Linked DNA regions of Homo sapiens. The protein of the gene in region 2 interacts with the protein of the main gene of each other region in a biochemical or structural test. Each region holds a gene or a part of one and is shown on either strand. Other genes may lie near its edges.

Region 1 (6,954 bases), on a different chromosome or scaffold from region 2:
CCAACTCAGTTTATCAAACATCTATAGTTTCAACCTTTGCAACAAAATTAATTTTAGAGTACAAGCTGACTAAAAAGTTTACAAGTTTAATAGTTTGTTGTAATTAGATGCTTATTGATTACTGAATTCTAACAAAGCAAAAAAAATCTGATTATTTTCTAAATTTAGAGAGATCTCAGAGTTTCCATTCAGCTCTTAAAATGTAAGCACAAATGTGGATTTGTATCAGTAGGAATGTTATATATATATTTACATATATATATTTATTTACATATATATTTACATATATATTTACATATATATATATATATTCCTATATGTATGATATACTTTAAAGAGCCAAGCTCAGAGAATTCAAAGACTCATCAGAGCTTAGAGACAAAGATAAATTAAATTCAAGGAACAAAATGAACATTATAATCAAAGAAAAGCAAATGCAAACGATGCCATTTTTGCCTATGTGGAAAAGTTTTACTTTTACTAATAATACTCTAGTTTCTGGGCACTCTCGGACTGCTGGTGGAACTTTCCAAGGAGTAAGTTGAGAAACTGATATGTTGAGCCTTAGAAATGTATTGTAGATATTCTTCTTGTAAGAATTAACCCTAAGGAAGTATTTAGAGGCAGACTATGTCTTAAATACAAAGCTGTTTCTCATAAAATCAGTTTAAAAACAGTATTTAGATTCAACATTTGTTACATGCATCCTATGAAATTCTGAAGTCATTAAGCCTATTGAAGAATACAAAAAAAAAAAAACATTTGGGGCGGGGCACGGTGGCTCACGCCTGTAATCCCCCAGCACTTTGGGAGGCCGAGGCGGGCAGATCACGAGGTCAGGCGATCGAGACCATCCTAGCTAACACGGTGAAACCCCGTCTCTACTAAAAATACAAAAAATTAGCCGGGCCTGGTGGCAGGGGCCTGTAGTCCCAACTACTGGGAAGGCTGAGGCAGGAGAATAGCGTGAACCCCGGAGGCAGAGCTTGCAGTGAGTCGAGATGGCGCCACTGCACTCCAGCCTGGGCGACAGAGTGAGACTCCGTCTCAAAAAAAAAAAAAAAAAAGGATGTTTTCTAAACACAAAATAAAAGACTATATGCAACATGATTTTAACTTGTTAGGGAGGGAAAAAGAAATAACAATGGTAACACTGTTTATAACTGGATGGTGAAATGACATATTTTTTTCTATTTTTCTTTATTTTCCAAATTTTCTACAATGAAACTATATTACTTTTAAAACCAAGTAACATTATCAAAGTCTTCTAAATCACATTTATGTAAAAAATATCGGGATTCAAACTAGACAATATAAATTATACATGTAGTCTTCATAAAGCTATACCAATAATTCGACTACGAAAAATAAGTAAGAGTAGCACTTAAGAAATGGATTCAAAGGTGGAAGTTGGAAAGAAAATATAGAAAAAGTTGAAGCTAGAATCTAGTTACCAAAATCTGAATTCTAAATAGAGACTAGAGACCATTTTTTCAAGAAGATTATCCCCAGGCCAGGCGCGGTGGCTCACATCTGTAATCCCAACACTTTGGGGGGAGCAGGGTGCGGATCACTTGAGCCCAGGAGTTCAAGACCAGCCTGGGGAACATAGTGAGACCTCATCTCTATAAAAGAAAGGAAAGAAAATTATCGCCAAAGTACCCAATCCCACATTTCTTTCATGACCGTCTGCCAAGGTCTCCTTCCCTATCCTACAAACCACCCAGCAGCAATTCAAAGAGAGTTTTGAAAAAGTAAGATAAACTACTACAATTAAGAAAAAAGCTATTCACCAGCTACAACCTCCTCCCAACCCTTCTCTCACTTGGGCATAAAGAGCCAAAAGCTTCTTAGAAGCAGCACTGCTGTCTCCCATCACCACTAAAATGTCTGAATTCCTGACGCTGCAAACAAAACTGCTTATTTTCTCTCCTTGTTATTAGCAGAGTTTTACCTGTCCTGAGGGAACCCTGGCACGCTGAACTAAAAGTCCTGATCCTCAGGGACCATGCCTTATTCCTCTTTGCAGATGCGTCCTAGTTACCAGCTAGCCCACTCAATACTAGTCTGATGAATAAATGAAGAATGAAGGCAGGCATGCATATTAAAGAAAAATATATTGTGTTTACCCATACAGTACTTTAAGAGTACCTGTTTGATGTTTGACAACCCTTTGTTTGCCTGTTATCAAAACAAGGCAGTGCCCCACATTTTAAAAAATAACAAAAATAAAAGCCCGCCTGGCCCCCCGATGCAGCTTAAAGTAAACAGTATCTTTGGATCATCTCTATCCCCAGCTACTGTTAAATGACCCGCAATTATGATGTTTTCTGACTCCGGGTCTCGGGCCTCCGGCTGGTATTCCTGCCCCTTTGCCAAGACCCCTAATCGACAGACGTTGCGAGACCTTTGTCTCGCTCCTCCCAGCAGCGGAACCCCCACCAACCCAGTTTCCTCCCGAAAACTCCCACCTGCCGGGGTGGGAGCGTCGGGCCAGGGGAGTTCGGGGCCCGGGGCCGCCTCTCAGCTCTGGAAAGTAAAAGTGGGCGTTTTCTCAGCTTTCAGTTAGTTTTTCCACCCGACCTTGACGCGGCCGGAGCTCCTGCCCCACTGGCCGCCCCCAGCCCCGCGGCCAGCCTGGCCCCGCGACCCGGCTCACCCTCGGGCAACTCCACGGTGCGCGCGCGGCGCAGCGAGCGCGTCAGGCGGTTGAGTTGCTCCATCGCTCTCTCCATCCTCGGCGCGCCCTCCGCGATCCTCCGCGATCAGCCGCCCCACCGGCGGCCTCCGCGCCCAGAGCCCTACATCTCGCCTGGGCCCGTCCAGCAGGCGGAGACGCGGGCTTGCCCCGGCTAGAGCACTGAGCTGCGAGGGCTGCCTGGGGCCACGTCCTGCGTCCGGGGGCCGGGCTGCTGCCGGACCGACCACCTACAGTACACCCGCCGCCGCCTCTGCTCGCGCCTTTCCTGCAGCCCCCGCCGCCGCGTCCCTCCCGGGCTCGCGTGGCCTTCTGGGAACTGTAGTTTCCAGCTGGCAGAACGGAGCGCCCTGGGCGGAGTCACGTTGGGGGCGCCCAGGCCACGCCAACGCGGGCGCAGGGCTGAGTATGCGGGAAGCCACGCAGCGACTGGGCGTACTCCTAAGCTTCTGGAAAGGCATTCTCACGCCCTGCTCCTCCTACCCTCCTCCAAAGTTGTACAGGAGCAGTTTCCTCCAATTCTATAACTTTACTATAAAACAGATTAGAAATTGGCACAATTGTTCTTAAATCCGTCACCACCTTTCTAGTACTGTATTAGTGCCTTTGTTTCAGGTACCCTACATGAACTGTTTTAAGTATGGTATTTTCATATGTCAAACTTAAAGAGTAATAAAATCAAACAAATCCAAAAGCATATTGTGCTTTTGTCTTCATTGTAAATAACTTGACAATAGCTTAATTAGTTGTTTTTCCTGCCGGGCGGCTTTATGAGGGCAGGGACATTTAATCTTGAACTGTGTTGTATCCCTGTACTTAACAAGGCACCTAGCACAAAGTTAAAGCTCTGGGGAAGATATGAATGATGACAACCTGAAAAAATTTTTTCATTTATTTGGTACAATGCTAAAGTGTCTATGTGATGACACAGCCTAGTGGGAAATCCAAAGGATTTGACTTTGTAAGTTACAAAAAATTTGGATACCTACATTGTGGAAGAAATGAACTCAGTGGCGAAAAATCATATTCATAAGCTCTGCACAGAAGTTGAACACTTGAAACAACAGAAGTTGGAACTTCAAAAAATTAACCCAATCAAAGGGGTAAATGTGAGCCTGGCTAACACCAATATATCTTGGATATATTACCAGTGCCAAGATGATGCTGGAGTGAGGGAGAAACAAAAGGCTTGTCTTTTTCAGCTTCTCTTCCTCAAAGAGACAAAGCTGTTCCTGAAATGAATGGGCACATGTACGTTGATGATGTATGTTGGCTGGCCAAGTGAAAGAGAGTCTCACCTGCCCATTCAGGATATGAAGGGGCAGATGGTGGTTGGCATGTGTTTTCCCTGCCAGTGCCGTCCTAAATCAGTTCCAGCTAGTGACCATTTGTGCCAGTGGTGCCACAGGCACGGGGAAGACCTCTGTAATCTTCACCTAATCAGATGATACCTAAACCAGTCTGGCAACAAGGTGGTAGAGGTCAAAGTTTCAAAAGAATACCAGAGGCTGGGCGCAGTGGCTCATGCCTGTAATCCCAGCACTTTGTGAGGCCAAGGCAGGCGGATCACTTGAGGTCAGGAGTTTGAGACCAGCCTGGCCAACATGGTAAAACCCTGTCTCTACTAAAAATATGTATATACAAAAATTAGCCGGGCGTGGTGGTGTGCCTCTGAAATCCCAGCTACTCGGGAGGCTTAGGCAGGAGAATCGCTTGAACCCGAGAGACAGAGGCTGCAGTGAGCTGAGATCCTGCCATTGCACTCCAGCCTGGGTGACAGAGCGAGACCCTGTCTCAAAAAAAAAGGAAAGGAAGAAAGAAATACCAGACGTTATGGACCAGTCTAGCCCAGGCTCAACCATTTGCAACCTGGCTTCAACTAAAAATGTTCCAGTCTTGCTTGGCCTCTTATGCTATTCAAAAAGTCAGGATTCCCACTGCTGTACAGAAGTTGGCCCCTCAGCTTCTCTCAGCTGCTGTTATCACCATTGCTCTCTAGGCTGTTGCTCCATATAAATTACCTCCAACGTCCTGTGAGGACCAAGCCTGGAGTTTGTGGGCAGGGGTAGGAGCCCCCAGCAGCCTCCATGGTGGGCATTGCATCTCATGCTGGTCACTGTTCACCACAGGAGCAGAAGATAATGGAACAGGTAATGCTGATGTGAATTGTCAGTTCCAAATTCTGCAATATGATGCCGTCTCCCAATAGCTCTGCTTCAAAATGTATAAAGCTGCAGTACTACTATCAGCTTATCACCTCCTGTCCAACAGAACTTTCTGCAATGATAGAAATATTCTATAATCTGCAATGTCCAAAATAGCATCCACTAACCAAATGGGGTTACTGGGTGCTTGAAATGTGGCTGGTGCAACTGAATTTTAAATTTGTATTAAAGTATAAGTAATGAAACTAATTAAGTTAAATAGCTGTATGTGCCTTGTGGTTACCGTATTAGACAGGGCAACTTATCACACCAAGAAGAAAGCTGCCCAGGAGAACACCAAAACAGCTAAACAGCTTCTTATAGATTATTATTAGCTAAAGAGTAGATTTTCTCACCTGTCACCAACACCAAAAACATCAAGTGGAAGTTTCAAAAGGGCACTTTGTATCATAAGTTCCATTAACAAAAGCGTAGAGTTTTTCACTAATGATAACCCAGGTTCTTCTGTGGCCCAGACAGTTTCAACTTTCTTTTTTGTATATCTGGTATTTTTTTCTTCCTGGAAATTGGTTTTATTGAAGATTCCCAAGCATTAAGGGAAAGAGAAGAGAAAAACAATCTGTTCAACAAAAGGCAGGAAATGGGTGGGAAGCAAAGAAAAATGGTCATAAAAACAAAACATAAAGTAGCAGTAGAAATAAATCTAAATATATCCATGGTCACAGAAAATATAAACAGAGTAAACTCAATGTTTACTCTAAAACATAGAGGTCTTAGATAGTGTGTTAAAGAAAAATAAAAATGGAGGCCACAGTTTAGATATACCCAAGTCCAACTGTGTATAACCACAAACCAAAACTCATCATCCTCATTTCCCCAAAACACCATCTGTAATAATAAACACAAAACGCAAGGTTTATATCCTTGTCAGCATGATTCAGTGAAACTAAGCCAATCAGCTATAGACAAATCAGCTTAAATAGTTTCCCTAAAAAAATTAATGTATAACAGACAATCATGAAAAAAGGCCAAAGTACTTCATCTTTACGCTTTATAAACTGTACGGGAAATGCAGTAAGGCAAGCTTCTCAACACTGACTCAAAATATCCTGGATCGCAATTTGTACTTGATCTGATTTATTTCTTACATCTGAAAAGATCAAATAAAACAGCTATTTGCTGTTTCTAAGGGACCACCATTTCCAAAAGGAAATGGAAAAAAGGGATACCATAGAAAATATTAGCCAAATAAATGTGATATAAAAATATATCAGGGTTCTCTAGAGAAACAGAACCAGTAGAATGTGTGTATATATATGGAGAGAGAAAGAGATTTATTATCAGAAATTGACTCACGTGATTATGGAAGCTAGCAAATCCAAAATCTACAGTTTGGACCAGCGGTCTCAATACCCAAGAGACCTGATGATGCCATTCCAGTCAAAGGCCAGGGCAGCTAGTAAGACAGATGAAGTCTGGAGGCAGTCTGCTGAAAAATTCCCTCTTGCTGTTTCTTCTATTCAGGCCTTCAGCTGATTGGATGAAGCCCACCCATATTATGGAGAGCAATCTGCTTTAACCAATTTAAATGTTCATCTCTTCCAAAAACACCCTCCAAGTTGGCACAGAAAATTAACTATCATGAACAATATTAATATCAGCAAAATAAATTTTAAAGGAAAAAACATTATTAGAGTCAAAGAGAGTTACCAGAAAGTTTATACTAGTCCTGAACCTACACCTAAAGACATAGACTAAAAATAAAGCTACACTTGACAGAATTACAAGTATAAGTTCCACACCATGGTGCTAGATTTTTCACACCCTTCGCTCTGAAACGAATAAAGCTAGCAGAAAAAGACAGTTAAAGATACAGAAGATTAAAAAACTTCAACTACAAGTCTCATTAAAGGGCACGTGTGAACATTCACTTCACTACTAATGAAGAGGGAATACACATCCTTTTAAAGCACATATATTACAGTTACAAAAATACAACGCATCCGAGTGCCCTTCTTCAGAGCAGTGTCACTGAGGTGGCAACTAGGAAGACCATGGCCAAAGCCAGGGTAGGGTAGGTTGAAAATCCCA
Region 2 (7,439 bases):
GAGATGGAGGTGGCAGTGAGCCGTGATTGTGTCACTGCACTCCAGCATGGGTGACAGAGCGAGGTCCTGTCTCAAAAAAAAAAAAAAAAAAAAAGGGAAACAAAAACCCAGTACATTTCATTCCTCATCTCTCTGTCAAGCTACACAGAGCCTCCTTTTACAGAAGAGCAAATAAGCACAGAGTACAAAGGAGTTTAAAGGTTAGGCAAACATTCCTTCACCAGCTCAGAGGCAAATGTCCAGAAGAGAGCCTGACTGTTTCACTTTTAAGGAACAATGCTGTATAAATATGGCCACTGATACGTCAAAGTGACAGCCTAGGACTTGGTTCTAGGTGACTTTTACTTCAGCTTGGCAAACTTCAACTGTCCTGCTTGCTCCTTCTAAAACTCATTTTCTTTTTTTGAGACAGAGTCTCACTCTGTTGCCCAGGATGGAGTGCAGTGGCACAATCTTGGCTCACTGTAAACTTCACCTCCTGGGTTCAAGCAATTCTCATGCCTCAGCCTCCCAAGTAGCCGGGACTACAAGCGTACCACCATGCCCAGGTAATTTTTTGTATTTTTAATAGGGCTGGGGTTTCGCCATGTTGGCCAGGCTGGTATTGAACTCCTGAGCTCAAGTGATCCGCCCAACTCGGCCTTCCAAAGTGCTGGGATTACAGGCGTGAGCCATCACCTCTGGCCTCATTTTCTATTTATTAGTTTCTACTAGTTTTCGATTAATTTCCTCTATTAGAAGAAAAGATTCAATTCAGAGTTGCAAAGTAAAAACATACTTGGAAGTTACCATGAAATAAGAATACTAATGGTCAAAGCCTTATGATCAGAATGTAATCAATCTGTGAAGCTCAAAAGTTCAGTTAACTGTGTCTGAAGTGGAGATGCCAAAGATAAGCTCTATTTTATCAGTTGTTATCATGCGTATACGAAAAATGAAACATAAAAGCTCTATCTCCTGAACTCTTCCAATCCTTTCTTACTGATTCATGACCCCCACTTGCTTTTCTTATTTGGACATTCCACCCTTCCCCTAGTGCTCCGTGCTCCTTACTCAGGTTAAAGAAACTAAGCCTGGGCTAAAGAGCACTTGAAAATAAAGAAGTGCAAAGATGTAACCAAAAATTGCTAAAGACCATGTTTTCCTTACAACATTTCTGACTGTGGTTCTCTACAGGAAGAACCAGACCACTGCCATTTGCAGAAACATTTGCAAACACTTGTCCTGATGAAGGCATCGACTTACTGGAGGATTTCCTACGCCTTCTAGGAACAGATGTCATGCCCCTTTGTCACCAAGAACAGGGCAGTACCAGTCACAGGAGTCACTCACTGAAGGTGGACCAAATGCACTGTGACCCCAGCATGGAAGCCCTTCCAAAAGTTCCCATTTTTTCTTACAAGACAAACTGACGCCTTCCTCAAGACCCTCTCCTCTCTGCCTCCTCATCCACCTCTCCAGCGTGGTACTCAAAACACACCCTTCTTGAGTTACCCTTCCCACAGGCCTGAGATGTTCTGCGTGCTGCCTGGTTAATGCCTCCCTGACACCCCTGTCTGGGTCATCTTTCTTTCTAACACACTTTCACGGACCACACTCCTTCAGAACTCTTGCCTGGTTTTTAATTATTCACTCATTAGTATCACAATTGGATTAATACTGCATTCCCTCAATAGACTACGCTCCATGAGACCAGAGCCGTGTCTGCTGTGTTTCTGCAGGATGTACAGCCCTCCCAGCACGGTGCTCGCTTCCCTAATGCCATTCCACAGTATTTGTTGCAGAGAAGGAAGCAGCATGCCAGGACAGATGGAGACAGGACTAATTTGGCTTGAGGTATGTAATTTTGAACTTGAGCCTCTCTCTGGGACTGTAAAACTCCAAATCAAAGTCTTAATCTGAGAATACATACATCTGAAAGAGTGATTAGGGACTGGTAAACATCTATTAATATTCAACTCTGATACAAAGTACAAGTTGTTTATTCTTACCACGCAAGGCCAAAAAAGGGGAGAAAAAAAAAAAAGCACACAGCATATGCACTGGGAAAGCTTTCGCTTATTCAAAACAGTATTTGTCAAGCACCTCCAGGTCTGGGTGCTGCAGGGGAAACAAAGATTAAACAGCCAGGGCTTTGCTTCCAAGGTGCTTACGGTCTTAAGAAGGAGACAAGACATGTTTATAAATAGCCAAAATGCAACCCAGAAAAGGCTAAAAAACACTGAGAGGGAGGGAGAAATAAACGAAGCAAGAGGTCTCCGGAGGAAGAGATGAATGAATTAGCCTATTAATAACTCCTCACTGTAATCCCAATGTAAAGCAAGGAATTCCAAACCAGGAAAGGTCAAACTGAAGTATTTGAGGAACACAGGCGTCGCCCTAAGCCCTTCACAGGCTCGCTGGGGATAATATCGCAGCTGAAACCGAACATCAAGCTGGCTTTTCAAACCTTCAGTTATTTACATTAGACTGAGAGGGGAAAAGCGCTAAGAGTGCAAGAGCAGAGAAAGAGCAAGAGGAAACTTGAAAAGGCGGATCACGCCAATGCGCTGTGCACAGCGCCCCCGCGCCCCGCGCACCCGCTACCCCACCCGAGCCCCCAGCGGCCCGCGTCCCCCATCCCGGTCCCAAGCCCAGACACCTCCGAGATCCGTCCCCCGGCTCCGGCCGGCGCCACCGCCACCCTCAAGACCCCCGCAGCCCAGGCCCGGCCCCGCGCCACCGACGCCCCCCGCGGCCCGACCCGCGCGCCCCGCCAGCCCGGGCCTCGTACCGTAGGTTTCGGACATGGCCGTCTGCGACATCTTGGGAGCGGCGCCGCCTCTCGCCGGGTCACCGGCTGCACTCGCCCGCGGTCCGCCGGCGCGTCTCGGTGGGGAAGGACCTGGGGCGGGGGACCGGAGGAGGGAGGGGCCCGACCGGTCCCCACGGCAACCGCCGGTCTCCCAGCGGCTGCGGCCCAGCCGGACTCCAGCTCCGCGCAGGCGCAGGGCCCTCCACCCTCCGTCCGGCCGCGACCGCGAGGAGGAAGAGGAGATGGGCTACGCGAGGCCCGGCCCACCCCGCGTTCGCGCGTGCGCACGGGGAGGCCGGGGCGGGGCGCGTGAGGACTTCGGCGCGCGCCGGAAGCACGTGCGCGGGCTGGGCGCTCTGGCGGTGTGCGCTGAGGTGGGCAGAGCGGCAGGTGGGGGCGTTGGGGGCTGAGTCCCGATTTCCCTGAGGGAGGGTCGGGTAGAGGCGGGCGGTGGGCAGGTTTGGGGGTGACAGAGGGCTGGGGACAGTGGGGTCCAGTTGCCGGACAGAGGAGGAAGGTGCCCGCACTGGGGAGGAAAGCAGTCCATTTGCCAAATTGGCCCGTCTCAGTTAAGACGTTGTCTTCGGTCATCATCTGCGGCTGTCAGCCAGGAAAAAACTTCCCTGACGCTGTTACGATGGAGGCCAGAACTTGGTTAATGTGTAACAAGGAGGCAGTAGGCCCCAGGTGTCCAGCCAGAGGCCGCCCTGTGAATGGGAGGCAGGTTCATTTACCCGTTGGGAAGCTAAGCTTTCACTCCAAACTGCCGGGCCCTCTTGGATGGAGCTGAGCGGGTGTGGGCGGAATGACAGAAGCGCAAGATGCCCAGGTGCTAAAAGGTCATCGCAAGACTACAGGCTGCAGCCTCTCCACATCCCATTTTAGAGGGTTCTGGATTACGGTTGAGAAGTATCTCCCGGCCCTCAGCTGGGGATGTGTTTCCAAATTTAGGAGTTTTTTTAATTTTTATTTTTTAACAGGGTCTGGCACTGTCAGCCCAGCCCAACCGATTCTCCTGCCTCAGCCTCCTGAGTAGCTGGGGCTAGGGGCTCACACGACCACACCGCGCCAATTTTTAAATTTTTTGTAGAGATGGGGTCTTGTTATGTTGCCCAGGCTGGTCTTGAACTCCTGAGTTCAAGCATCCTCCCTCCTTGGCCTCCCAAATTGCTGGGATTACAGGCATGAGTCATCTCACCTGGCCTTGGATAGTTTGGTTTCAGAAGCAAAACTGAGTTAGAATCCCCTTCTGTGGGAAATGTAGAGATAAACATTTATGGGAAAGAGAATTTTGGTTGAGGATTTGGCCCATCTGAGCTTGATCAGGGCCACATAGCGCCTCATAGTTCCCAACCTTGTTCACAATAGGTAGTCGAATGCTCAAAATATCCTTGGCTAAGCTCCCAAGTGACCTGGACTGTGTGGAAAATGCCAGTACATACTTTTGTGTGTGTGTGTGTGAGTCAGTTTGGCTCCATCCTCCACATAAATTGGCATCAGAGCTTCCCTCTTCCCCAGTGGCTATTTGGGTCGGTATTTTTCTCTTGTCTCCGATCCTAATAACAAATAAATGCAGTTTTTTCTAAATCACAGAGAAGGCCCCATGGTGAAAAGTTGTGACAGCTGTAATTCCTAAAACTGTTTTATATATATTTCTTGTTCAGTGGCTCAGATCATTTGTTGCTTTCTTGTTTGTCTCTCTGCATGTCGTGTTTGATTTAGGCTCCTGAGTATAACAGATTGGTTCTGATTAAAACCATTTCAGAGGAAAGACAGTGATCCCAGGAAGCGGGAAGAAAACAGCATCACCTGAAGTTATTCCTATTCGTTAGATTTGTTTTCTTCCTGCGAAAAACTGCTATGTACAAGAAAGAAGTCAGTGAGCTGCAGTGATAGTTAGCATTATTGACTGAAACTGGACCAGAGATCCCTGAAACCTGGACAAGGTGGTAGAAATACAAATTATGCTGCCATTTCAAAGCTGTGGGCAGTTTTCTACTTTGTGGAAAATGAAGACTTAGGTAGGCCTTTGGGAAAGACGATTTGTTTTGGAAAAACCACCCAAAGGGATCATTTGGTTTGCAAATGTAACTGCAGTATCACAACTGGAAGAAGAAATATACAAGGGCGAGGTTTGAAGGAGCCCTTCAGTATCCTTGGATGATACTGTGGAAGATTCTTTGCATCTCAGTAACTTTGGATCTTTGAAGATCCAAGAAAATAAATTTCTTCAAAATATTTTTAGAGACTGCTTTGATTCTGAGGCACTGCTGATTATATGGAAGAAAAAAATATTGGAAGATTAATTTGTGGTTTTCTCCAGTTATCGTCTCCCTTCTCTTTGGGGGAGGTTTGTGACGCAGTAAAAACAGATATACAAAAGCCTAGGCATGTTAGAGATTTGCCTAAGGGAAATGTAATTATGAAGAAGGATTTTTTCAAGCTGAAACTAGATCCCACTTTTTTCCAGGTCAGTGGGTCCTTCAAGTATCTGGTACTTTCCTTCCTGCTTCCTGACAATGTTAAAGAATGTGGCATGACCTTACATTTAATGCCCAACGTGAGGAGCCCTGGGGCTTGATGCATGAGATTCTTGGAGCTAGGCCTGGTGGAGGGCACTGGTCACAGCCTCGGTGGAATGGTGACTTTCTTTGGTAACTGGAATTGAAGAAAATGAGTGGACTTGTGTCTGAGCACTTGGGAACTCAGCAATCCCTGGGTGTTACCTTGAGAAGGAGCCAAATTCCAGACATACAAGTGGAGACTTGAAAATGGAAGCTCAATTCCACACCCAGGCTGGTGGAGACTATGACATATAACTCACATCTTCAAGAAAGTAGACACCTCAGAGGTCACTGGGCCACTTTACCTTCCACTGTCAAAACTATGTCCATGATCAGATACCTCTGTTGCTAGGGAATATTCAGTCAGAATGGGCTAGATTAACTGCAGTAATGCAGATCTCTCAACCCATTTATGACTTACGCAGCAAAGTTCCTCGCTCAGACTACCTGTCCACTCCCACGAGCAGAGACTTGCTCATGGGCCCTCCTAGACCCAGGCTGACCGAGTGTGTTTTATCTAAATGCATCTCCACAATCACTCAGGTAGGAGTGGCTATGCATTAGGACTGATTGTGCATTAGTTAGAGAAGCACTTACCAGGAATTGCTATAAGAACTTCTATTTACATTTCATGGGCCAAAGCAAGTCATGTGGCAACACTTAATTTCAAAGAGGACAGGAAATGCAATATTGTTATGTCCCTGAAAGAAAGGAGAAGAGAAAGTCTATGGAAAGACATTATGACTACCACTGGAATTTTCACCTGTCCAGGCAGCTCATCGTGCTTTTATTTGAAACAATTTTATTGAAGTATAGGCATAACTGCACATACGTATGTATTTATTTTATTTTATTTTTTGAGATGTAGTCTTGCTTTGTTGCACAGGCTGGAATGCAGTGGCGTGATCTCAGCTCACTATGACCTCTGCCTCCCGGGTTCAAGTGATTCTCCTGCCTCAGACTTCTGAGTAGCTGGGATTACAGCCACGCGCCACCACACCTGGCTAATTTTTGTATTTTTAGTAGAGACGGGGTTTCGCCTTGTTGGCTGTGCTGGTCTCAAACTCCTGACCTCAGGTAATCCGCCTGCCTCAGCCTCCCAAAGTGCTGGGCAGCCTCCCAAAGTGCTGGGATTACAGGCGTGAGCCACCGCACCTGGCCTGCACATATTTAAAGTGTACATTTTGACAATTTTTAATATATATGTACGCTTGTGCTTGCTGCTCCAGGGGACCGCTATTTCTAGGCCTTTTCAGTGGACAGAGGCATTTTTGTGATTGTTTTATCTCATTTGTCACTTAGGAAGAATAACTTCTTGTGAGGTTTAGTGGTGGTTTTGGGGTTGATAGTATAGGTCTTCATCACAGTCCACCTCCAAGTGATAATACACTACTTTATACAGAGTATAAGAAACTGACAACCATTTGCTTCCATCCTCCCCCAGCATCTGTGCTGGGGATGTTGTACTTCTACATATGTTGTACACCCACATACATTGTTATTGTTTTTACTTAATAAGCTACTAATTCTCTGTCTCTCTTTTCCTTTTAATTGTGGTAAAATAGACATAAAATGTAGCAACTCAGCCATCTTGAAATGTACAGTGGCATTAAATATATTCCCATTGTTGTGCAACCATCACCACCATCCATCTCTAGAACGCTTCATGTTGCAAACCTGAAACTCTGTACCTGTTTAACAACAACTCCCCATTCACTTCTCCCCACAGTGCCTGGCAACCACCATTTTACTTCCTGTCTAGGAATTGGCTTCTCTAGGTACAGTACCTCATATAAATGGAGTCATACAGTATTTGTCTTTTCCTCACTGTCGTATTTCACTTAGCATAATGTCCTCAAGATTCATCTGTAACATTGTAGAATGTGTCAGAATTTCCTTCCTGTTTAAGACTGAATACTATTCAATACTTTGTACATATATACTGCATTTTCAGCCAATTCTTTTCAATAGATTTAAACAATAAGAAAAAAGTGTTTTATATTTACTCACATAGTTACCATATCTAAGACTCCTTATTCTCTTGTATAGATTAGATTTCCATGGTCTCATTTCCCTTTTGT
Region 3 (7,035 bases), on a different chromosome or scaffold from region 2:
GCGTGAACCGGGGAGGTGGAACTTGCAGTGAGCCAAGATTGCGCCACTGCACTCCAGCCTGGGCGACAGAGCAAGACTCCGTCTCAAAAAAAAAAAAAAAAAAAAAAAAAAGAAAGAAAGATGAAAGCTGATGGTAGGACGTTAGGTTTAGTAGCTCAACATCCAATTCAGTAAATATTTGCTAAATCCCCTTATGCTAGGCACATGGAGGATGTGGAGGTCAATCCCATCTCCATATCCTTCGAGGAACTCAGAGCTTAATTTGCAAATTACTGCATTTGACATCTTTAAATGAATTCATATCTTATGTTTGCCTTGGCTGCAGAGTGAAGCCACTGATTCTAATCTGTTTTGTTGTGTCCCTAGACTTCTGTTAGGTGCCTGGATTAGAAACCTCAGATTGCTTCCTAAGCCTTTTCATCCATTAATTCGCAAGTCCCTGAGAAAGACCCCGTCTTATGTAACAGAGAGTAGCAATACTTGACAATAACAATAAGGTGCCTAATGGCTTACAAAAATGCCTACACTTGCTTACACATGCTTTTACTCATTTAATCTTATCTGTGTCCCTTCAAGGAAGGTAAGGTGCAGATTAGGATCTCTGTTTTATAGTCGAGGAATCTGAATGGAAGCCAAGAAGCCATGATGCTATTGAGTGGCCCATTTCACGTTGAAATCCAGTCTTCTGTCTTCAAATTCAGTGTACTTACCACTATCCTGCCCGGATTGTATTTATTCAGTATTTCCTGAGCACCTAGAATGTGTCAGTTCTGTTTTAGCCTGGAGATATCATGGTAGAAAGGTACAGAGTCCCTTGCTCTCATGCAGCTTATATTCTACTGGCAGCAAACAGAAAAATACAGCAGTAAATGAACAAGGGAATTTGGATGAGGAATAAGTGCTGGGGTGAAATCCCATCTCTATTAAAAATACAAAACTTAGCTGGGTGTGGTGGCACGTGCCTGTAGTCCCAGCTATTCAGGAGGCTGAGGCACAAGAATTGCTTGAACCTGGGAAGCAGAGGCTGCAGTAAGCCGAGGTTGCGCCATTGCACTCCAGCCTGGGCAACAGAGCGAGACTCCATCTCAAAAAGAAAAAAAACCCAACAAACAAAAAGAAAAAGAAAAGGCCTTGCTAGGATGGTGACGTTTTTGCTGAGATTTGCTCCCAGGGACGGGCCAGCCATTTGAAGACATGTCAGAAGGAAGAGCAAGGGTAAAGGCTGTGAGGTGGCAACAAGCTTGGTAAGTTCCAGAAACTGCAAGAAGGCTTACAATGGCAGGGACAGGTGAGTCAAAGGCAGAGTGGGGAGGTGGGTGGATGTAGGGGATGGAAGTGGTAGGGAGCGCTCAGATCATACAGGACCTTGTCTGCTAGAGTAATGAGTTGGGATTTTGTTCTAAAAGCTGTGGAAATCATTGGAGGTTCTGGAGAAGGGACGTGGCATGATCTATTTTTGTTTTTTAAAAAAATCACTCTGGCCTCTTTGTGGCAGTGAATTTTAGAGGGCATAGGAGTGGCAGCCAGGAGGCTAGTTAAGAGGTTAGGTGAGAGAAGATAGTGGCTTTCTAGGTTGGTGGCAGTGGAGATGGTAAGAGGACGGATTGGGGATGTGTTTCGGAGGTAGAACCAGCAGGATGGCGGGATGAGGGTGAGAGAATAAGGATGACTCCTGGGTTTTTGGCCTGAGCAATTAAGTAGATGTTAGAGATGCCATCTGCCTCTGAAATGATGAAAGGACTTTTTGGTAAGGGGCCCTATGAGGAAGAATTATTCATAGTTTATTTTGAACCCTGTAGAGGAGAGGCACAAGGTATAAGCATCATACTTTATAGTCTGTGGGGAGGAAATCCCAGATTATGCTGGCAGAAGCTAGCCAGGTGCAACTGATTGAAGCTTGACGTTCTTACTGTGAACCAAAAAAAAAAGTCCTGCTTTTCTACAGTCTGGCTTTTTGCCAGCCTGTGGAGCGGCAGGTGTGGGCTTTGCCAGGGCAGTACCCATCTGTCTTTCTGTCTTGTGCTGTTGGCATTGCAGTGCTGACTCGGGATCTTGGCTGAGGGAGCCTGGCCAGCTCTGGAAGAGGGAGCGGAATCACTAGTGAAGTTCACTTGGTGTGCCAAATGGCCACATTCTCCCTGCCAAAGTGGTTCTTTCCTGGTCACCAAATGACAGTTCTGAAGTTTCAGAGCTTTTGACTTCAGAATCCCTGGAAAACCTATTGTACTCTACCAGAATTCCTAGAGGATTCTTGAATCTCTTCTGAGCAAGGGAATTCGAGCTTCATTGTTATGTATTCCAGTAACTGTACTTGTAAATCTGGGCATTACAGGGTTGTACATTCAACATTGTGAATAGTAAAACTAATAGTCTTATCACTGCCACTTGTTTATTTAATTAAATTTAATAAATTTATTCATTTTGGAGACAGGGACTCCCTCTGTCACCCAGGTTGGAATGCAGTGGTGTGATCATGGCTCCCCCACAGCCTTGAACTCCTGGGCTCAAGTGATCCTTCTACCTCAGTCTCTTGAGTGGCTGGGACCGCAGGCATGTACTGTCGTGCCTGGCTAATTTAAAAAAAAATGTTTTGGGGACGGGTGTGGTGGCTTATGCCTGTAATCCCAGCACTTTGGGAGGCTGAGGTGTGCAGATCACGAGGTCAGGAGTTTGAGACCAGCCTGACCAACATGGTGAAACCCCTTCTTTACTAAGAATACAAAAATTAGCTGGGCGTGGTGGTGCGCACCTGTAATCCCAGCTACTCAGGAGGCTGAGGCAGGAGAATCGCTTGAACCCGGGAGGTGGTGGTTGCAGTGAGCTGAGATCGCACCACTGCACTCCAGCCTGGGCGACAGAGTGAGACTCCGTCTCAAAAAAAAAAAAAATTCTGTAGATGGCTAGGCATGGTGACTCACACCTGTAATCTCAGCACTTTGGGAGGCTGAGGCACGTGGATCACCTGAGATCAGGAGTTTAAGACCAGCCTGGCCAACATGGGGAAACCCCATCTCTACTGAAAATACAAAAATTAGTCGGGTGTGGTGGTGCATGCTTGTAGTCCCAGCTACTTCGGAGGCTGAGGCGGGAGAATCGCTTGAACCTAGGAAGCGGAGGTTGCAGTGAGCTGAGATTGTACCACTTCACTCCAGCCTGGGTGACAGAGTGAGACTCCATCTCAAAAAAAAGAAATTTGTAGAGACGGGTCTTACTGTATTGTCCAGGCGTCTTGGCCACAAGTGATCCACTCACCTTGGCCTCTCAAAGTGCTGGGATTACAGGCATGAGCCGCTAATTTTTTTAGAAAACTTGGTCTCACTCTGTTGCCCAGGCTGGAGTGCAGTGGTGCAGTCATAGCTCATTGTAACCTCCAACTCCTGGGCTCAAGCGATCCTCCCACGTCAGCCATCCAAGTAGCTGAGACTACAGGTGCATGCCACTACACCCAGCTAATTAAAAAAAAAAAATTTTTGTTTTTAATTTTTATTTTTTGTAGAGATGGGGTCTTGCTATGTTACAGGCTAGTCTCAAACTCCTGGCTTCAAGCAATCTTCCTGCCTCAGCCTCCCAAAGTGCTGGGATTACAGGCATGAGCCACAGCACCTGGCCACCACTGCTATTTGTATAACTTTGCAGTTTAGAACGCTCTTTCCTGTGCATTCTCATTTACTAATTGTCAATCAGTTGAGATCATCTGGACTACATATTATCCCTGGTTTACAAATGAAGACATTGTGGTGTGGAGAGGTCACTTGTTTTTGTCAGTAATATTGAGCATTTTCTAGGTGCTGAGTTAGGGAGATCCTTGCTGCTCAAAGTGTGTTCTCTGTGACAGATGTACCATGTCCCCAGGACCTTGTCAGAAATGCAGAATCTAGGCTGGGTGTAGTGGCTCACGCTTGTAATCCCAGCACTTTGGGAGGTCAAGGCAGGAGGATCACTGGAGGCCAGGAGTCCGAGACCAACCTGGGCAAAACAGTGAGACCTCCTCTGTATTTTTAAAAACAGAAGAAGAAGAAGAAAACAACAACAATAACAAGGCCCAGATCTAATAAATCAGAGCCTGCCTTTTACCAAGATCCCGGATGTTTCCTGTGCACATTAAAAGTTTGAGATGCTCTCACCTAGGTAATCAGTAGCAAAACTAAGACTTACCAATGATAATGACAATGAAGGTAATAGTCGTAGCTAAGATACATTAGCCAAGCACTGTTGTAAGCACTTTACACATGTTGTTTCATTTAGATTTAGACCTCACACCAATCCTGTAACACAGATTTCCAGAAGAGGAAAGTAGAGGCTCAGAAAAGTTCAGTAACTTCCTGACATCTGCTGACTCCAAGTCTATTGCTCTTTCTACCATTCATTCGCGTGTTCATCTGTTTTTCAGGTGGGCAGTGACCACATCTTAGCTGTCTTGTCAAAGGCCTTTCTCTTCCATACCTGCATAACTAATTTTAAATGATGACCAAAAAAAAAAAAAAAAACAGTGACTTGAAAGAATGTTTGAGAAAATCAAGGGAAAAACTTCTGAGCTAGATGGGTGTCAGTTACTTGACTGATGAGGCCGCAAACAGATATCTCATTTGGTCAGATAAGCTACCTCTCACACTTCTTAGTGATCTAACTTCAGGGTCCGAACAGCTGAAGCAGGTAGGAACTGTGAGCTTGTATTCTGAGTCATTTAGCTCTAAGCTGTTTCTTGATTCTGGTGATAAATATCTACACTGGGTGAGAAGATAGTGGATAAAGTCCCATATAACACCTGCCAACTAATTGTTAAAACATTCCATCTCACTGTGCCTCAGTTTTCTCTCTCTGCCCTGTGGGCTCATTATTTTCCTTTCAACACCTCCTGTCTTTCTAGACTCTCAGAAAGATATATTGGTCGAGGACTATGCCATTATAGGAAATTTTGACCTGAAAGGATGGTGGGAACTGGGTAAAGGCAGGATTCTATCAATTCTGCTACTTGCTGTGTGACTTGGAGCAAGTGACTCAACCTCTCTAGGCCTCTGTCTTGCGCATACATATATATATGTAAAATAAAGATATAGGACAGTTCTTCCCAAAGCCCTTCCAGCCCTGCCCACAAGACTGAACCTTGAGTTGGGTGATATTTTGTTCTTTCTTGGTGACTTCATACTGAGCTTTCTCCCAGACCTTTCGGGTGTGGCTTTTAGAGCGTATTTCTTGGCAGTCAGAGAGCATTACAATCAGCTCATCTTATCAGCATCACACATCTGCACAGCAGCTTGGGATGTTCATGTTTAAGGTTCAGTTAATCATGGTGACACATTGTGTCTTCTCACTTTGTCACACTGATTGCGGACATTGAGCTCTTCACACAGGAAGATCTATCTTTAGCATGCTGATTTATTTAACTCATAATTTGCATTAGAGAGGGAACCAGTGATAATCATGGTGGGTGTGGCTTTTATTTTTAAAGTTTTTGGCAAGACATTTGCAGCACTTGCATTTTGTCATGCTTGAATATAGTCTATAAATGGAAATGGGTTCAAGTGAAATAGAAATTGCCATAGATTATTGGGAGCTTGGGACTTAACCACTCTGGAGTCCTTCATATCACCTTCAGCAGTGCTTTCAGGAAGGGCTTGCTTGGCCTTTTGTGTGTGACATAAATTAAACAGAAACTAAAAGCTCATAGCACAATCTCTAGCAGCTTAGCAGACTACAGTAATCATTACTTTGTAACACATTTCAGAACATAAGCAAAAAATCTAGCTGGCAAATCATAAAAGATTCCATCTAGGTAAGATAAAATATCAGTTCAAGTTACCTAAAGATAACCACAAGAAGATAGTCCTTGGTGGAAGTAGTTACTGGTTTTGCAAGATCTGCAATAATAAGTTAGACTCTGGCCTAAGAAATATATGTAATGTTTTTCCTTATTCTTCAATTGTCAGCCTTTTAAAAATATATAATTTTTTCCGATTATAAAAATAATAAACTTCCATTGAGTAAAAAAATGAGGAAAATACTGAACAGATTAAATAAGGCTGACTTTAAGATCCACCACTGAGAAATAACTACTGTTAACATTTTACTGTCCATATACAAATGTATTCCTAAATACATTTTATCTCATAGGCTTGCAGTTCTCACCTGTTTCCTCCATTGTTGTTATTTAGGCCATTTTCAACATTTAAACATTATGAGTAATGCTTCAGAGAACATCTTAATGATGATTATTTTGTGTAAACCTTTGTCTGCACTGCTGATGATTTCTTTAAACTAGGTCCTTTAATGTTAAAAATTTTAAATTACAAAGGCAACCCCCCTTAAATAATGTTTTTAACATGGCAGTGTTAACCTAAAGCTGAAAAGACAGACAGAATTACAATTTGGTTGGGGAATTTACCCATGGTGATGGTATCCTAACTCAGGTTTTAGCTTACTTGACTACTTGCAAGTATATTTTTAGAAAGTTGTATTCAAAGCATATTTCCCATTTTCTATTTGGAAATGTTTGCTTAACATTATTTCATAACCATTTTTCCATATTTTTGTACTTATTTATTTCAATTTTTGTTTCATTTTATTTTTGTAGAAACAGGGTCTCACTATGTTGCTCAGGCTGGTCTCAAACTCCTAGGCTCAAGCGATCCTCCTGCCTTGGCCTCCCAAAGTGCTCAGATTACAAGTGTGAGCCACCAGGCCCAATCTATTTTTTTTATTTGTTTATTTTTGAGATAGGGTGTCGCTCCGTTGCCCAGGCTGGAATACTGTGGCATGATCATAGCTCACCGTAACCTCCAGCTCCTGGGCTCAAGTGGTCCTTCCACCTCAGCTTCCTAAGCAGCCAGGGCCACAGGTGCGTGCCACCACTTGTGGCTAATTTTTAAATTTTTCATGGAGGCAGGATCTCACTATGTTGCTCAGGCTGGTCTCAACTCCTGGCCTCAAGCAATGCTCCTGACTCAGCCTCCCAAAGTGCTGAGACTACAAGTGTGAGCCACTACGCCTTGCTGTGTTTTTGTGTTTAGTAGTTATTACTACATGTTAGTAGTTTAG
Region 4 (3,747 bases), on a different chromosome or scaffold from region 2:
AATATGAATAACAATCTAAATCACCACCCTAGTTCCTTTAACACATCATCTACCTTAGTCTGTCTCCTTCATACTCTGAAGAGTCAGTGTTTATCTGTGGTAAACAACAGCATCTGCCGTGAGGCTCATCACTGTCAGGGGAAAGGGCCTTATATGTAAACACTTTATCATTTCAACTACACAAAAATTATTTACTAAAGCACCTACTCTACCTGACAGTTCACTTACTCCCTTATAACTGCTGCTACAAGCAAAATCATTAAACACTATTTTTTCTGCACAAAGATGATAGGTCTAGTAATGGTACTGTGTCAAGAATAAAACTCGAGGTCTACTCACAGGGAAGCCAGACGACAGGACCTGCTGTGATCCTTCCAGATCAGAAGACACCCACGCTTTCCGCTGCTGAGCATTCTGACTGGCATTGACTCCAGTGCTACCAAAGGAAGCACGGCAGCTGTGACCCTTGCAATCAGGACACACAAACCAACACCGGGCAGTAGTTTCCAGAATTTGGCTTTATTTTGCAGTACAGAAATCATTTGGAGCCATTTTGAGACAGAAGTAGAGGCTCTGTCAAGTCAATACTGCATTGCAGCTTGGTCCACTGAAGAAGCCACGCCTGAGATACAAAAGATGCACTACACTTGACCCGCTTTATGTTCGCTTCCTCTCCCCTTCTCTCTCATCAACTTTATTAGGTTAAAACACCACATACAGGCTTTCTCCAAATGACTCCCTATGTCTGGGGTTTGGTTAGAATTTTATGCCCACATAAACCAAACTTGTGGCTATGCTATTTGGGCCCTGCCATAACATTTGACATAATACAAAATATAAAGTCATAGGGAAAACTTCCGGATGCTGTCCCAAACCGTGGAATATTCAATTTAGAATCTCCTGAACCTCAAGAGGACAGATGACACACAACCTGTATGGATCCAGCTCTTGAGCAGCAGCAGCACATAGCTACACTGATTAAAAGATTAAAAAAACTGTCTCAAGTTGTCTGTGTCGGTATCCCAATGTTTGTTTAACTTCACTAGAAAAAAAAAAAGCCAGTTTGGTTAAATTGAACAGAATGTGGTAACTGCCAATGCTGAATAGCCACTCCATGAAAACAAGTTAATAATTAGAAAGGTGAAGGGGAGTATTTACTGGCACAGCGCTCTTCATTCTCTCCATTTTCATTACAAAAGCAGGCCTTACAATATTGATTTCATTATATGCATTATTTGCCAAATTTTAAATGTGTCCTAATTACATAATAACATGTACTGCTGTTAGTCTTCCCCATAGATGTCATTCTTCTTGCGCTTCATTTCCTCAAAGTCAAACTCTGATCCTGTCATCCTCTTATAGATGTTTTTAATGTCATCACACGTTGTCTCAAAATGAGTGGTGGCATCATATGTGCGGGAAATAAAGATCTGAAAACAAAAATTACGAAGACTTAAGACCATGGAGGGATGTCTTCCAGTGAAACCTGCCCATATCCTTTCACACTTCCATACTCACCTGGCTTTCTGTTCCCAAGTCTTTTGGTACCAGGAGGTCACTGATGCTAACAAATCTGGAGGGAGAGAGAATTCAGTCAGGTGAGCTGGTCCCACACCTGACCATGGCTCTGCCTGAGGTCAACTGAGAGGTACAGATGAATCCCACAGAGCAGCCAGCAGCTACCTGCCTTGCCCTCACATTCGTCCCACCATGGAGCCACAATCAAAGGCCTCAGTTTGCATCTCGGCAGATATAAAAGAACACAACTCACTTCTGTTCAATTGGTTCCAAGAGCTCCAAAGCTGGTCTGATTTCCTTCTCAGGCTCCTTGGTTTCCACAGTTGTACTAACTATAGCAATGTACTTCCCTTGTGCTGCTACATTGTGCGCAAAGGAGATCATGCAGACGTAGATATCTAGAAACAAATGATACCAGCTCACTGCCTCAAGTGTCTCCATCTGGGACCCAACATACTCAGGTATCACCCATATGTCATGAGGTGTGAGTTAAAATTACTCTCAATAGGCAAGATCTTCTACACTTAAGTTCTAAATGGTGACAGAGTTGGATGTAAAGTACACAGATATTTAACAATAGGAATTTCTTTTAACCTACTAGAGATTAAGAATTGAAGTGGTAGCGAACTGCTGAAGTTTGGAATGAGATCTCTTAACAGCTCTGTCATACCTAACTAAAAAACCTGCCAAACCATATTAACTATTCTGGGAGATTCTTCCATTCTGGACCTTGCATTTAGAAAGGTTCTGAATGGCTAAGAAAGGATGTACTTAGTACTGACGTCCTCATTTACTTATTACAGTAATGTAAAACTGCAGAATCCACATAAACCACTTTTGAGTTGGCATAACGATAGAATTCTCGATTAGACTTGGTCTGTATACCACTCATCCAGTTAACTGTGTCATTTCCAGGATAGAAAATCATTTGGATAGGAGAGCATTTAAAGGCCAAAAAAAAAAAACTCTGGGACCTCCTTTATTCTTTTCAGACTTGCAAGGACCCAGGACCCGCCTGGGAACCTTGTGGAAGATTAAGTCCAGTCCCTTTGTTCTACAGATCATCTTTTGTGATTGGTTTTTTTTTGTGTTTTAACAGTCTGGCTCTGTCACCCAGGTTGGAGACAGGGATGCAATCACAGCTTACAGTAACCTCAAACTCCTGAGCTCAAGTGATCCTCTCCCACCGCAGCCTCCCAAGTAGCTAGGACTACAGGTGTGTGCCACCACACCTAGCCATTTTTGTTTGTTTGTTTTTTGTTTTTGTAGAGACGAGCTCTCACTATGTTACCCAGGCTGGTCTTGAACCCCTGGCCTCAAGCAAGCCTCCTGCCTTGGCCTCCCATGATTTCATTTCTTATATGGGGGAAAAAAAATCATTATACAGATAGCTCTTACCTGTCCCATAAAGCCTGATTACCCTTTTTAAGCTGAATTTTAGATAAATAAAAAGATTTGGGGCTTCTAGTTGAAAGGAAAATGGGAACATCGAAGGGTTACAAACAACTGGCTAAGACAAATAAGTTAGGACTTGCAATTTTAGAGCCATGTCCTGATCACAGAAATGAAAGGTGGACACTGCTAGAATCAAATGTAGGTACTAGGATTACAAATAAGGACACAGAAGCAGCTATGTCATTAGCTCAAGAATATACTCGGGTCAGTTAACTATTAAGCATAAACCTCCACAGGAACCTACTGTTAGTTAGAGCTGGGAGACGCAGGGTTCACCAAGCCCAGTCTGTTCATTCTACAGGTGATGGACACAAGTCCAAGGCTGGCTCCGAGTTGAATCTGTCCGCGTTGACACAATGCTGCCGGAGCAGGAGGAGGTACAAAGATTTTTTTCCCCCATATGTAAACCAAGGTCTGTTCACTAATACAGCATACAAAATTAGGAATTTGGGATAAAACACAAAGCAAATTATATCTTACAAAATTCTACCAACATCTGCTGGTCTTCAAACCTCACCTGACTTTCGATTGACTTGGTTCTGTGGAATAATGATCTGGCAGGAGTTGGCATCATTGGTGTTCTTGATGGGGTGGCTGAGGATGCAAATAACTCTGATCACCTGGCCCACTTTTTCTACCCGATCTTTTACGTAGCTGGGGTCACAGATGAGCTGCTTACAGCGAGCAATCTATAACAAAGCATTTAAGAAGACACTGAAGCGGACAAGGATATAGGGAAACACATCCCATGTTCATAGTTTGGAAGACTTAGTA

Evidence for each region.
Region 1: the proteins of RAB4A (region 2) and HACE1 form a complex in vitro, tested with the Homo sapiens proteins (one study listed by BioGRID).
Region 3: the proteins of RAB4A (region 2) and KIF3B form a complex in vitro, tested with the Homo sapiens proteins (one study listed by BioGRID).
Region 4: the proteins of RAB4A (region 2) and GDI2 form a complex in vitro, tested with the Homo sapiens proteins (one study listed by BioGRID).

Annotation. Positions count from the first base shown.
Region 1 is NC_000006.12:104,856,908-104,863,861, forward strand, and holds the start of HACE1 (E3 ubiquitin-protein ligase HACE1), read right to left. Parts: upstream 3,013-6,954; 5' UTR 2,736-3,012; coding exon 2,660-2,735; intron 2,640-2,659; exon of another isoform or gene 2,472-2,639; intron 1-2,471. UniProt on the Homo sapiens protein: E3 ubiquitin-protein ligase involved in Golgi membrane fusion and regulation of small GTPases. Acts as a regulator of Golgi membrane dynamics during the cell cycle: recruited to Golgi membrane by Rab proteins and regulates postmitotic Golgi membrane fusion.
Region 2 is NC_000001.11:229,266,705-229,274,143, reverse strand, and holds the start of RAB4A (ras-related protein Rab-4A), read right to left. Parts: upstream 3,034-7,439; 5' UTR 2,805-3,033; coding exon 2,774-2,804; intron 1-2,773. UniProt on the Homo sapiens protein: The small GTPases Rab are key regulators of intracellular membrane trafficking, from the formation of transport vesicles to their fusion with membranes.
Region 3 is NC_000020.11:32,280,630-32,287,664, forward strand, and holds part of KIF3B (kinesin-like protein KIF3B), read left to right. Parts: exon of another isoform or gene 1-1,244; intron 1,245-7,035. UniProt on the Homo sapiens protein: Microtubule-based molecular motor that transport intracellular cargos, such as vesicles, organelles and protein complexes. Uses ATP hydrolysis to generate force to bind and move along the microtubule. Plays a role in cilia formation.
Region 4 is NC_000010.11:5,764,723-5,768,469, forward strand, and holds the end of GDI2 (rab GDP dissociation inhibitor beta), read right to left. Parts: intron 3,663-3,747; coding exon 3,491-3,662; intron 1,917-3,490; coding exon 1,772-1,916; intron 1,574-1,771; coding exon 1,519-1,573; intron 1,431-1,518; coding exon 1,284-1,430; 3' UTR 501-1,283; downstream 1-500. UniProt on the Homo sapiens protein: GDP-dissociation inhibitor preventing the GDP to GTP exchange of most Rab proteins. By keeping these small GTPases in their inactive GDP-bound form regulates intracellular membrane trafficking.